Linked DNA regions of Homo sapiens: region 2 is linked to region 1. Evidence: fine-mapped expression QTL. Tissue or cell type: stomach. Region 1 holds a variant in brackets; the other region holds the start of a gene. All regions are shown on one strand. Distances are between the middles of the regions.

Region 1 (2,751 bases):
GAGGGCCGGGAAGCTCCGTCTCCAGGGAACAACTTGGGAATAACTGCACAGCCTCCCACAGTGCTTGACAGATACTGATTGGATACTGATAGGAATAAGGTGTCACAGGCAGCTTCCATCATGATCAGCTTCCATCATGGATCATGAAGTTCACATGAAGATTAGAAAGTGGGCTTCATGCTTGGGTGGGACACAGAGCTCACCCACTGGCTGAGATATTCATTTCTCACACAGGTGAAGTCAAAGGCCTTACACACAGGACCCCCACACCCACAGGCCTCACACTTGGCCCTGGAGGCTGCAGGCTGGCAGCCCAGTGTGTGGGGTCCCCCTGCTAAGCCCCTCCAGCCTGCCCCTATCCACACCCGTCCTCCGCCTCTGCATCTGACCCGGCTCCCACATCACACCGCTGGGGGCTCCTACCTCCTGTGGGCCTCACTGCCTAAGAGTCTTTGAACCTCTTAGTCACTCTGAGCCTTCCATGGTTTGGTCCTTGGAAACCAAAGGCTCACACAAGGTCCCATCTAAGGGGCCTGCCCAGGAGGCAGATCTGGTCAGTCAAGTCCTCTCTCAGCAGGAGTCCCCTGCAGGCAGAGACTCACGGCTGCTGAGCCAGGAAGTCAGGGCCACAAGACTTATAGCCCTGGCAAGTCTCCAGGTAGTTGACACTGGATACACTGCCATGGTGGGGCTGGAGGGTCAGCGGGCGGTAGGTCAGGATGTCAAAAACAGGGGAGATTGACCCTATAGATACACCTGTATGAGCACAAAATGGCAAGCACACAGCCCAAGTTCCTATCCACAGGGTGTCCGTTGAAAAGATCATGGGTACACCTTGGAGCACTTGAGGCGGATGTCAGAAAGAATGAAAAAGCTCTGTGCAGGCCTATGGAAAGGGCTCTGGGACTGAGGAAGGAAGGAGAGGGGGAAGGGAGGAAGGGAGGGAGTGAAGAAGGAAGGAAGGACGGAAGGAAGGAAGGAAGGAAAGGAGGGAAGGAAAGGAGGGAGAAGGGAAGGAAGAAAGAAGGAAGGAGAGAAGAAGGAGGGAGGAAGGAAGAAGAAAGGAAGGGAGGAAGGGAGGGAGGAAGGGAAGGAGGAAGGGAAGATGGAAGGAGGGAAGGAAGGAGGAAGGGTGGAAGGGAAGGAGGAAGGGAAGATGGAAGGAGGGAAGGAAGAAGGAAGTAAAGAAGGAAGGAGGAAGGGAGGAAAGAAGGAGGGAGGGAGGAGGAGAGAGGGAAGGAAGGAACGAAGGAAGGGAGGAAGGAAGGAAGGAAAGAGGGAAGGAAGGGAGGAAGGAATGAGGAAGGGAGGAAAGAAAGAGGGAGAGAAGGAAGAAGGAAGGAAGGAGGGAAGGAGGAGAGGAGGGAGGGAAAGCAAGAAGGCGGGAGGAAGGGAAGGAAGGAGGGAGGCGGGGAGGGGTACACAACAAGGGCAGCCTAGGCTCCGGTTGCTGTGACAAAGAAGCGGAGTGGCCCTGCTGCATTCTTTTGCTGGCATTTGGCATAAGCCTGTGATAGATAAAGAGCAGAAGGTGCCTTTAG[G/A]GGGCACCGAAGAACAGGGTCGATAGGGCTGGGGGAAAGCAAGTATTTCAAAGCTAACTTTTCCATCATTTTTGTGTTTGAACCATGTAAATGTATTGCCTGTCCCCCTAAAATGGATTAATTGAGAAGAGAGCGAGACCACGCCGAGCCTCGGGCCATCACAGCCTGAATGGGAAGCAGCGAACCCCGCTGTGACGGCTTCAGGCCCCGGCCTGTGGAGGGTGGGGGAGTCGCCCTTGGGAGGGGCTGGGCCCCACCGCCGGCTCTGCTTCTCACGGCAGGGGCGCCCCCAGGAAGGGACAGGACAGGGAGCTTTGTCCCGCAGCGAACGGGAACGCGGAGGCCCGGCCTCTCGCCTCCCCACCCTCCCCACCCTCCCCGCGCCTTCTCGGGCCTCCGCGTCCGCCCTGCGCCCTCGGAAGGCGCCGCCCGGCGGCCGCGGCCCTTCGCCGCAGCCAGAGTGCTTTGTCCGAGCTCAAAAAAGCCGTCTCCATGGAAGCGGCCCTTCCGCTCGGAGCCCGGCGGCCTGGAGGGAGACCCGGCGGGGATGCGAGGATTCCGCCCCAGCCCCAGAGGACGCGGCGGAGAGCCTGGAGGAGGCGCTTTGAGAGTCGAGGTCTCCCGCCCGCGCGCCTCCCTGGCGCAGACCTCTTTTAACTTTTTGGCGTGGAGTGCGCGTCCTGACGTGCCCCCTGAGCTACAGCTTACTGAGCTTTACTGGCTTCGCCGGACAGCCGTCCCCAGGTGGAGAGACAGCGCGTCGCGCGCTGCCCGGGCCCCGCAGGGCCTGGCGCCTGGGGCCCTTGCGCCGCTTTGGGGCGAGGGGATCACACCGCGGGCTCCCGGAGCTTAGCGTCTTCCACGCGGCGCTGTGTGTCATCCACGCAGTGTGCTCTCGCTGCCGTGTTCAGGTCACTGCGAGGGTGAGCCCCGCTTTATCTACCCCTTCTGCTGTTGATGGGCACTCGTCTGGGGCTAGAAGGGATAAGGTTGCTGTGAGCGTTCTCGTGTGTTTTTGGTGCACGCGCACACACATTTCTCTGGGGTGCAGACCTGTCTAGTAGTGGAACTGCCGTTTCCCAGCACTTTGGAGCAAAGCCCTGTTGCAGTCTGAAGCGGAAAAGGCAGACGGGCCTTCCATGTTCGTGATTCCAGCCAGGCACAGAAGGGAAGGACAGGGACAGCAGCCGCGCGGAGGCGAGGAGGGACA
Region 2 (2,751 bases), 32 kb before region 1:
CCGCTCAGTGTCCTTTCACTTGGTGGTGTGGGGACACTGGGAGGCTTCCTGGGCCTCCCAACCCTCCTACCCAATTCCCAGCCCAGGCTTGGCTCTCCAGGACCCAGCTTCTAGTCCCTGTGAGGCTGGGCCACCCTGCAGGACTGCAGCTCTGGGCCCTCTGTTCTGGTGCTAGGGCCCTGGGGCCCATGAATGCAGTTCTAGCACTCGGGAGGCTGAGGCGGGAGAATCACTTGAACCCGGGAGGCGGAGGTTGCAGTGAGCCGAGATCGTGCCACTGCACTCCAGCCTGGGCGACAGAGCGAGACTCTGTCTCAAACAAACAAACAAACAAACAGCAGCCAACATTCTCCGAGGGTTTCCTAGGGCCAGGCGCGGGGCAGTCTCATGTAATTCTCAAGCAATCTTGGGAGGCAGGCACTACTGTTCATTGCCCCTCCCGATTTTAGAGACAAGAAACTAAGATTCAGAACACAAGAAACTTGCCCAAGGTCAAGGAGAAGTGGAGGCGTGGGGAGGAAACAAAGTCACCTGACACCAGAGCCCATGCCTCCAAACTCCAAGTCTGGGACTCCTGATTAAATTCCGTCTCTGTCTGCACTTTGGGAAGATTCTTTCCTCTCCTAGGCAAGTGCCCGCGGGGCCTGAGCTCTCGATAGCGGGGCCCCAGGAGCCACGTTGTGGGGTCTGCTATCCGGCCTCCCTCTGCACGCGCGACCGTCCACTTGAGCGCAGTGGCTGGAGCTGGGACTCCAGCGCAGCCCCTGAGCGCTCACGTCGACCCCTCCAATCACAAGAGGCCCTCGTGCCAGGCCCCCAGATTTGGCCAATCAGGGAAGACCTTTCCCTGTCACAGAATGGGGTCGAGGGGCCCAGGAAACAGGTAGTCCCCAGTCACAAATCATCGCGTCGCCTTCGCTGGTCCCTTTCTCTTATCGAGCCTCAGTTTTCTCTTCCATAAGCCGGGCCAGCAGTGCCCACCCCACAGGTTGGCGCCAGCTCCGTAAGGGCCCTACCACCGCGGCCGGCCAGATCCTCGGCGGGCCAGTCCTGGCGCTGCGGTCATTTAGCCTGATGACCCCTGGCCAGGTTCAGCCTCAATTGCTCCAAAGAACTCCGGACCCGTACCCCGAGCCCGGCGTCCCAGCGGCGAAGTTGATGGGCCCCGCAGGAGCCCTTGCGGTGAGAACCGAGTCCTGGAGCCCCTGGAGCCCCCGGAGCCCCCGGAGCTGCAGCCGGGGCAGCCTCCTTTCCGCCGGGAGTCCAGCGCTCTCGAGAGCCCAGAAACTCACCGCGCGCAGGAGTTGGTGCGGGCGTCCCGGGCAGGTTAGACTTCTGTGAGCCGCAGCCCCGAAACTGAGGTTGGTGCAGACCCGTCCTGGGAGCCAGGAGGTGGGACCTGTCCCCGCCAGTCCGCGAGCTCTGGTTAAGGCCAGAGCCCGTGAGGGGAGGGGCGCGGGGCGGGCGGAGAGTCAGCCGAGTGGGGGCGGCGCTCACCGGTGGTGGGACTATGGCGGGAGCGCAGCGCACCCTCTCCGGGCGGGTCTATAAATGCCATGTAAAAGCCAACCCCGCAGGGGCCTGCGCTCTTTCCCGCTTAGGTCAAGAAGACTTACTGTGGACCCTTGGAGAATTCCCAGGGCTTTGAAAAGTCCCAAGCACCCAGCAGGGCTGGCAGTTCTGAGCGCTGGCAAGGCTAAGTGGGTCAGAGGAGACCCTCGCCAAGCCGGTGACTCACTCACTCGCTCACCCTCTCTCACTCTTGATGGGCCAAGTACCTGCCATGTGCTACGGACACAGCAGAGCGAAAGGAGACGCTGCCCTCCGGGAATTTGCAGCCGCTTGCAGAGGCGGCCCCTTAGCAGCTGCGCATCCGGGTGGATAGCGGCGCTTCTGCCCGCCCAGTGCCTACCCGCCTCTCCGAGAGAAAAACAGCCCCTGGTTTTCTCTCTGCAATTCCCCTTCTCCACTCTCTCCCTTCTACTCAGTCCTGGTGCCGCAGACCCCTCCTCCTGGTTCCCAGAGATCCTGGCCAGCCCGGTCTCAGGCAAGGCCATGTAGAATGCCGGGAGTGATAATTGCGTATTGTTTCATGACTGCAAGCCTGTGTCCAGGTGGCTCCTTCTCCTGGAACACCCTTCCCACCACACCTGCGGCCGCACTGCTCCGTGCCCTGCTAAGCCTCACTTCTTTTGAGGCGACCCTCTCGCTAAGTCCCGACCACCTGGCCCTCTCTCTGCTCAGTGCCTGAACACATCAGGCTTGCTGCAGCCCCTGCCTTTACCTCTCTACTTGTAGTGTTCTTTCAGAGCCTGCTCCCATATGGTATCACATATCAGATATCTGATGCAGAGCCTTAGAGAGGCTGTTCCAGGTCACACAAACTAAGGAAGTCCCTCAGCCACTCCCTGCCACATCACCCTGTTCTATTTCCTTCACAGCACTTAACTGTATATCTGATATTTCCTTGTTTCTTTGTTTGTTCATTGTCTGTCTCTCCCACTAGACTGTAAGCTCTTTGAGGACAGGAAATTTGTGAGATGTATTCACTGTTGTATCCCCAATACACAGTGATGGCTTGTAGCAGTTGCTAAATAAATGTTTGTTGAATGGCTTAATGCATGTATTTTGCTCACATAAGCCAGTATGGGCACCCAGGATTGAGGTGGCCTGTGCCTGCTGATCCACTTAGCCTACTTTCAGGCACTGTCCCCTTGTTCTTTAGGCTCCAGCCTGCAGGTCTCCCTGCTG

Evidence for each region. PIP is the estimated chance that this variant, and not a neighbour inherited with it, causes the effect.
Region 2: it holds the start of ALDH1L1, and the variant in region 1 is fine-mapped to the expression of ALDH1L1 in stomach (GTEx, PIP 0.93).

Annotation. Positions count from the first base shown.
Region 1 is chr3:126,211,219-126,213,969 of GRCh38, forward strand. LOC124909426 (a long non-coding RNA gene) reads left to right here and starts at 1,814. Exons shown (of 3, transcript XR_007096060.1): 1 at 1,814-2,751. RefSeq lists an enhancer at 2,289-2,751. The variant G/A (reference allele first, on the strand shown) is at 1,542.
Region 2 is chr3:126,179,184-126,181,934 of GRCh38, forward strand. ALDH1L1 (aldehyde dehydrogenase 1 family member L1) reads right to left here and starts at 1,403. Exons shown (of 23, transcript NM_012190.4): 1 at 1,293-1,403. It overlaps ALDH1L1-AS2 (ALDH1L1 antisense RNA 2), which reads left to right and starts at 882. Exons shown (of 2, transcript NR_046383.1): 1 at 882-1,361. RefSeq lists enhancers at 1,063-1,818, 1,819-2,572.